Homo sapiens: one gene and its partner. Changing the gene in region 2 together with the main gene of any one other region gives a genetic interaction. Each region holds a gene or a part of one and is shown on either strand. Other genes may lie near its edges. The genes, in order: TRPC6 and SLC35C1.

What was found.
Region 1: changes in SLC35C1 (region 2) and TRPC6 together harm fitness less than expected from each alone (positive genetic interaction), as found in Homo sapiens cells (one large-scale study listed by BioGRID).

What each region holds. Positions count from the first base shown.
Region 1 is NC_000011.10:101,450,979-101,455,234, forward strand, and holds the end of TRPC6 (short transient receptor potential channel 6), read right to left. Parts: intron 4,128-4,256; coding exon of another isoform or gene 4,124-4,127; coding exon 4,040-4,123; intron 2,748-4,039; coding exon 2,672-2,747; intron 2,129-2,671; coding exon 1,977-2,128; 3' UTR 586-1,976; downstream 1-585. UniProt on the Homo sapiens protein: Forms a receptor-activated non-selective calcium permeant cation channel. Probably is operated by a phosphatidylinositol second messenger system activated by receptor tyrosine kinases or G-protein coupled receptors.
Region 2 is NC_000011.10:45,803,845-45,808,146, reverse strand, and holds the start of SLC35C1 (GDP-fucose transporter 1), read right to left. Parts: upstream 2,999-4,302; 5' UTR 2,346-2,998; coding exon 1,811-2,345; intron 12-1,810; coding exon of another isoform or gene 1-11. UniProt on the Homo sapiens protein: Antiporter specific for GDP-l-fucose and depending on the concomitant reverse transport of GMP. Involved in GDP-fucose import from the cytoplasm into the Golgi lumen.

The DNA of each region.
Region 1 (4,256 bases), about 56 Mb from region 2:
CTTAGTTTCAAAGATGAAGCCGACTGCGACGTGAAGGTAGGATTTAAAGCCAGTGGTCTTGAGACTTTTCCCATGCTTATGACCATCTTTTGGCGATGTGCCTGTAATGAAGCTCTTATCAGAATTTTAAAAGCTTTCTTAAAATGCGTTTAATTTCCTTTTTCATCTTCCAACTTAGAAGAAATGCCAATTATTCTAAGTTGGAAGATGAAATTCGAAGAGATGTCAATTCAGTTGCACTTTGATGAAAATCTGACTTCAGGACATTAGTTTGAACCATAAGAGCCACCAGGAGGGTAGTGCCTTTTGCTGAGGAACCCACAGTCATGCCTGTTGAGTTTCCCAAAACTTATATCTTGTCAAGTCAATCCAACTTAAAAGACACTGAGGAATCTGAATATCTTTTCTTGAGTCTTCTGGAGTCAAGACCATGTGCTGTCATAGAGCATCCTTGGGATGAAGGTCCATCTCTCGCATGGCACAACACACACTTTTTTGTGGATGTTAGATTATTTTAATTTGCTGATAGTGCATTCAGTATGAGGTTGATTTTTTACAACTGCTGATTCAAATACTGTCACAAAATATTTGAAAATCGATCTTTATGTATCACCAAGTAACTTTTCCATAAGTAGTATCCACAAATACAAAATCACTGAATATAAATTTTCAGCTGTATTTTCTGATCTGGTTACATAAATGTTCTTTGATTTAAATTAAGCCAAAGTTGGAGCTAAACAGATTTTCTGCAACCATTTCATCTTTAAGATGAAGTTAAAGATTTGCATTTGAAATCTCCCATTATTGAATTGGAAGTAGCAGTTCCAGTTAATGTCCAGCATCCTCTGAATGCCAATGGTCTTTGAGTAAACATATGAACCTTCATCGCTTTTAGTTGTTTAAGACACCACTTCACATGATCAGTAAGTAACAACAACAACCTCTTGGTAAATGCACATGAATGCAAATTCCTGTTTTATATATTTGGGTAGAAGGATAGAACATATTGAAAATAACAGATAAGTATTTACAAATTCTCACCTTATTTTTCCCCTTTACATTCAATGGCTAAGTGTGGGGATTCATCTGTAAATGCTCCCAGAAATGGCACAAAATTGTGCTATAATGGAACCAAACAACCACAGTGTTTGTTTGGGGTTTTGATTTTTCTCCAATAAAAGGTACTTATTTAGACAGTAAAATTTTTTAGTGACAATAAAAATTTATAACATAAAGAGCTTTTGTGTGTCCACATTAGCCACAAACTAGGGCAAGTACTTTATGTCTGTGTGTACACATTTACACACACGCACACACACAAAACTGGACCATGTTTCCAGGGTTCAGTGGAGGAAAAACTTTTTTCATTGTTAAGTGTAATGTTTTCAAATAGATGAATCAGAAAATTTTACATAGATGTAAGACCATTTTGTATGAACGGTATCAATCATGTGCATTGAGGGATAAGTAGGGTAAATGGTGTTTAAACAGCATTCTAAAGAAAGGATTAAAGCATTCTAAAGGCCCATGGGCTACTTTTTCCCAAATTTCAGAGCTGGGAGTCCCCAGCAGGGGATCCACAGAGCAGGCAAGAAGGAACCTGAAATAAACTTCAGAGGAAAAACCGCATGGGGAGTAACGTGGGTCAGCCCCTGTCCGCTGGGACCCATTTTCAGGCAGACACTACATGGCAATGACATCATCACAAGAGTTAGTTATATCCAAGAAAGCAGTTTATAAAACAAGCACCAAACAACTGGGCATAATTTTCCTCATTATCTACAGCCTTTACCCTGAACAATGGAGTTTAATCACCAAAAAAATTAGATACTAGGGCTCCAGATGATAGGATGGCCCAAGTTATTTAACGTTTTCTTGTTTAAAAGGTGGGCCCATTGGCACTTAAGAAAATAAATCAGAAAATAATATGGCTTCAAGTGGACAAATAAATATGAATTTCTAAGGAAGTCTTCGCATTATCTATTGGTTTCCTCTTGATTTGGTTCCATGGATAATTTCTCTCCAAGTTCTCTAATAAGTTCTGCTAGGTCTTCTGTATTCTGAGATTTTTCTTCAAGGAGTTCATAGCGGAGACTTGAGATGTCCTGCTTAATTTCCTTCAGTTCCCCTTTGAAAGCAAGAGTGATAAGAAGTCAACTATAAATACGCAATGCGGAAAAACTAGTGACTGTGGGACAGGAGGAAATCAGCTCTAATTTCACACACAATTTTATTTTGAATCCTTTGAAAGGAAATAACTTCCTAATTGAGCAGGTTTTTGTTTTCTTAGCTAAGTGTTTTTGTGAATGAAGAGATTATAGCAGAATGATAACAAAAGCCCTCCTAAAGTAAGTTAAAACAAAAAGGTGGTGAATGATTCAGGGGTTGAGGCAGCAGCCCCTTCCTTGCCTTTCCCACCCACTTCCTCCTCCCTCCAAGTCCACCATAAGAATGAGAGCTTTTTATCTAGCAAGTGGCACCTGTCCCCGCCTGTGGAGACATAGCCTGTTCCCCACTCTTTAACAGAACGGCGGTTGGTGAGATCCTGTTCTACTTTTCCCCTTGAAGTTCACTCTCCCTGTACGCATCTCTGCAGCTCTCCAGGCACTCTGCGCTAGGCCCCCGTCCTGACTCACATTCAGGGGCTGATTTGCTTCTGCGTTCAACTCACCTTCGTTCACTTCATCACTCTCCTTATCTATCTGGGCCTGCAGTACATATCTTTTAATGAGCCTTTTCATTATTTTCTAGAAAACAGAGAAAGGAGAAATCTATGTCAGTTTCAGGTTCATGACAAATCTCTCATTTGGAACAAGTTTCAGAGTCTTCCTCCCTGTAGTGAGCCCTTTGGAAGTGATGGCTGTCAAGGACTAAGATGATTCAGCCAGGATGCAGGCGATCTCTACATTTTGCTTTCCTTTTTAAAGCAGTTTTCACATCACCTAGGCTAATGACTCAAAAGTGAGTTCTTAGAAAAGAATGTTTAGAGCAAGTATGAAATCCTTTATGTCCATTGCTTGTATTTTATTTGAAAAGTATTAGAGTAAGACAGTCTTTCAGTGGGGTAGGTAAAAGATGTACACTACTGCTCGTGGAAATGGGAAATTAAGCTAATGTCTGCTCATTTAAGCCCCACGTCTGACCCACCAAAAAATGGAACCAATTTTTATTTTAAACTTTCTATTAATTTAGGAATGCTAGTTTCAATGTAATATATTTTTCAAGTACCTGGGCTTCTATCATGCAAACATTGCTTTTATTATATATTTTTCATAAAAAGAAGGAGTCTTAGTGGGTGCTCAGAAAGTCTTGATGGATATAGAACTAAATAAAATTTTACACCTAAGCCAAGGTTAAATGGTAGATAGTAAAACTCTACCTTCAAGAATCTATTCTAAAGATATGATTTAGTACATTAACAAGTATGTTCATAGAACTAGTTATATAATAGACAAAAATGAAACTTTAAATGTTCATCAGTAAGGAATTATTTTTAGTAAATTATATATTTGTATGAAGGAATATGATACATTCACTGAAATTAATAGGAATATATATTTTGTGGAGAGAAAATCACAAGCTAAAAACTATTACTCATTATATAAGTATTAGCTGATTTATATAGTATTATATATGCATTTTATAATAATATTAAAATATATGTAAAATTATGCACATATAGGCATATAATCATCTGGCAGAATTTTCACCAAAAGCAAGCAGACTTTGTTTCTCACTGGTGGAATCTGACATGAATTTTACTGTCGTCTTTATGTTTTTTGTAAGGTTTGCCTTTTCAATGAACACTCTCTTTTTTAATGGAGACTTTCAGATCTGTGATTCCAATACTTTATTTTTTTTAACTTATATATCTCTGTCACTTACAAAATGCCTGGTACATGGTAATTAATAAATATTTATTGAATTAATGCATTATTTGATATTGAGAAAAATATCCTGATACTTTAAAGAATCACATAGTTCAAGAACCTAAATATTACAAGTAACTAGTTTTATTCCTTTAAAAATCCATGCTTACCTGATATTGTCTTGGAGGATTATTGAAACTATTTAGATGGAAATCTTCTGAGCTCCTTATACTTGGTTGTTTATTGTGCCCAACCTGTAATTTGAAAAGATTTAGAAATGGATTCCTACTTACATTTTCTTTTAAATAAAGTAGTGAGATTAGTTATCTAATGAACTAATAGTCTTACATACACAAATTATCTATATGTATAGTGCCATTTATCTTG
Region 2 (4,302 bases):
CTCGTCTTCCCCTACAAGGAGGAAGAAAGAGGAAACATTGCAGATAGGGAGCCAGGTCCTGGGCTGGCAGAGAGCGTCCACCTCCCTGGCCCCTGTCCCAGTCAGGCACGCCCGTGAATGCACCATTCTCAGAACCTCACCACTGGTTACTTGGATTACCTTTGGGATTTGGGCCCAGTTACCCTAGTGTCTTCACCTTCCTGCAAGCAAATTCTCCAACTAGGAGCCTCTACCCCTGAGGCCACTCCTGGCAGGGTCAGCAGGAATGAAGTAGAGAGCCCTGGGGCATCTGAGGAGGACAGGGAGGAGGGGAGGTACACCTGTTCCCTGGAGAGGGAAATGGAAGCAGGCTGGGAGAGTTCTGGCAGGGGGGGTCTTGCAGCTTCCCCTACTCTAACTGTGACCTTCTCCCTTCTCCCCTCTTGGACTTAGACCCAGCAGCCCTAGATCCAGCAGCTGCTCAACAAGGGGAAACATTTTCTAGGACAGGTGGCATGGGATGGGTCCCTTCCCCCACCAACCGGTGCATCTAGCCTGGGACCCTGAGCCATCAGCAAAGAATATGATATGTAGGCCAAATAAGATAAACTTTATAGCACCAGGAAAAACCAGCATAGGTTCAAATGAAGACCCCATTCCTAGATGACGCAGCCCTGGGAAGACTCGGAGGGAATGGGATGCTGGAGGCTCTCTAACGCAGCATGGGGCCCAGTAAAATATGGGCCCATCTAACCTGTGCTGTCCCATACCATAGCCCTCAGCCACATTTGGCTACTGAGCCCTTGAAATGTGGCTAGAAAATCAGGTTGTAACATCTGCAAATGAGGAAGTGAATGTTTAACATTTTGCTTAATTTTAACTAATTTAAATAAGTGGCCAATGGCTACTGCATTGAATACTGCAGTTCTAACCTCCAAGACGAGCAGAGGGGATAGAAGCACAGGCCTGGGAGTCTGGCCAATCTGGGTTTGCATCCCAGCCTGGCTGCTTGCTAGCTGTGTGGCCGTGGGCAAGTAATGTAACATCTCTGAGCCTCAGTTTCCTTGTTTGTATAGAGATGACCGCTGGTAGTGATGCCACAACCCAGGGGATCTCTGGGAGAACAAAGGAGATGCTATATGTGAAATAATTAGCATAATTTCCCCATCAATAATTATTATTTTCTGAGGGTCAAGTCCAGGAAGACAGCTGAGGCCTCTCAAAGCATATTGCTTGCTACTGTCTCAGGCGCTATCCTGAGCTGGCAGAGAGTGATGGTATATTTATTAAAAGACGTATTGTCCTCTACTAAGAGCACTGGCTGGGAAATCAGGACACCTGAGCTCTTGAGAAACAATAAAGTACAGTGGTCGGGCATGTGAACTGTGAAGCCAGATTGCTTGAGTTCAGATCCCAGCTCTGCCACTTATTAGCTGGGTGATCTTGGACAAGTTAGTTAACTTCTCTGTGCCTTGGTTTTTCCCTCTGTAAAATGTGGATTATAATCCCATCTTGTTATGAAGATTAGCTGAGTTAATATGGCTAAGATCCATGTGCCTGGCACATTTTAATCACTCAACAAATGTCAGTTGCTTTTGCTGCTGTTGTTACTATTATTATTACTATTGTTCTTGCCCCGGCTGGGCTCCTAACTTGCTGGGTGACCTTTAGTAAGTTACTTGCTCTCTCTGTGCCCCCAGGCTCTTTCTCCTATGACTGCTGCACCAAAGGAGCTGGGACAGATGAAGTCCTAGGATGCCTAGAAGAGTTGTTCTTCACTGCTTCAGTCCCCATGACCACTCTATCCCCCGTGGCCCCAGCTGCCACTCACCGATGATGATACCGCAGGTGAGCAGGGCATAGAAGGAGGTGGTCTGCTTGAGCAGCAGGTAGGAGAGCAGCACGTTGAAGACGGTGGTGAGTGAGCGGCCCACATTGTAGAAGGCCACACCGACGTACTTGAGGCAGAGGTTATTGAAGGTGATCATGCCGATGAAGACCACCGACAGGGGCAGGACGCTGCGGGCCACCCTGAGGTCCAGGCGCAAGCTGGGGAAGTCCACGGCACCAGGGCAGCAGGCGGCCAGAGCGCTGAGGCCTTTGCACAGCAGCGTGGTCACCAGGCACTGGTAGAAGGTGACGAAGATGGGGGTGTCCAGCCGCAGGGAGGGGCTGTCCAGCAGGTACTTATTAAGGAACACCATGGAGATGGAGGTGACCCAGTAGAGGGAGACCACCAGCGCGATCTGCAATGCCCGCAGCAGAAAGGGCTTCTCCCCGTTGGCCTCTGCCTCTGCAGAGGGGTCTGAGGCCCCGGTCAGCGCCATGTGCAGGATCCTGGACCGCTTCAGAGGGGCCCTATTCATGGTAGCAGAGGAGCTGGGTCACCCCGCGGCCAGAACTCTGATTCCCTGGAGTCCAGGGCAGTGAGCTCACTTGTGCTCTCCGCAAGGAAGCCGCAGCCCTCCATTGTCACATGTGGGCTGGCCTAAAGGCCTCCCCATTGTCCTCATGGATTGAGAAGTTCTGCTTTGGGGTGAGCCCAGTTGTGCTGCTCCACAACCTACTCCCACCCCGAGGGGGCTCTGAGACAAGACACAGGGCAAGGGAGAGGAATAGGATAAGGCGGTGAGGCCAGGACAGAGAAGACCTGTGAGGGGAGAAGAGGCTGGGGCCTAACAGGGAGGGGTCGCAGAGAGAAGGGAGGGGAGAGGAATGGCAGGGCGGGGCAGGAGTAGGTACGCGGGGCGAAGGTGCAGGAAAAGGACGCGTGGCAGAGTGGGAAGAGGTGCCGAGAGGGCGTCATGGGCGGCTGTGGGAGGGAGGGGCGGGCAGGGGGAGGGAGGCGTACAGGGAGCTGCCGGAGGCCGGGCGCGGCTGGAGGGAGGGCTGCGGAAGGGTCAGAGGGGCTCGGGGCTTGGGGCTGAAGGACGCGGGAGGGGGCTGGGCCGGCGCCCACGTCTCGCTGCCTTCCCGGGCTCTGTCGCCGGCTCAGCCCAGGAGCCTCCGGACATCCGAGGCCGACTCCCCGGGAGGCGGGCCCTGGACTCACTTCCTGACACGCCCCCACGTGGCCTTAAAGGGCCCGCACGCCCCGCCTTGCCCTTAAAGCGACAGCCCCAGAGAGGCGGAGTTCGCCAGTCCCCAGCCCCGCCCCTGCGCTCCGCTGCCCGCTGCTGGCGGGGGACCTCGGCAGCCACAGGTTTTTCTGGGTGCTTGAGCCTCGCCCTGCTTCCTGGAAGGGCTCCATCAACCTCGCCTGCCCACCCTCAGCTCCGTCCGCCCCGGAGCCTCCGTCCCCCGACTTGGCTAGGCTTGGCTCGCAGGTCCACTTCCCGGAACCCCGACCCAGGACCCGGGCGGCGCTACATCAGCCTGGACCCCTCCACCTCCGGAGACTCGCGTTGCAGCCCCGCGTCCCTCTGCCAATCCGAGCTCACTCTTCCATAACAATGTTGTGGTCCCCTCCTTTCCCCCCATTTTCACCGCCCCCAGGCCCTCTCCCAAGCCCGAGACCCCCGGCAGCGCTCCCCGAGGCCGGAGGCCACGCCGCCTCTCTCGGACTTCAGTTTGTCCTCCCTGTGCTCCTGTCGAGGTCCTCTGGGCGGCCCGGATCCGAGATTCCAAAGGCTCAAGACAGCATCTCTTACCCCTTCCAGAAAATACTGTTTCCCCGGCCGGTCCAGCCGCATCAGCTCCCGCGTCCCTGCCTGTGTCCCCGGGCCGCGAAGGCGACCTGGCGCTCACCTCCTCCGGTGCACTGGGCGCCCGCCCCGCGACCCCGTGCTGCATCTGCAGCGCCGCACCCTGGGCCGCGCCCGCGGGATCGACTTCCTGCTTTCCGCCCCGGGCCCGGGCACCTTGCCAGCCTCGCCGGCCTGTTCGCGGCATGGGCCCCGGGGGTGCCGGCGGAGAGGCGGTGATCCGGACGGTCGTGGGAGGAGGCCCTCTCCTCTTTCCAAGGCTACTCCTGTCCCTGGTACCCCCGCCCGCCCGGGACCCGGCTTCAGTTACCGCAGCTGGCACGTCCCGGGACTTGGCTGTATCCCTGGCCCGCCGCGCTACCGGCTTGCACTTCCAGAAGTGCGTGCGGGGACCGCTCGGATTCTTCCAGCTGGCAGTGAGGGGGAGGGTTCCCCGCCCCTTCCAGGGCCGGGGCCTGGGAAGTCTAGCCTGTGGTCTGCCACTCACCAGGCAGCCGGGGAGACCAGGAGGATCGACTTCTCTTGGTTCGCGCTCTAGCACCTGCGTTGGGCAGGCCACTTTCTCCGACGGCCTGAGTTATCTTCATGGTAAAACTAAGGGGCTAGGCTTGACCTGTGG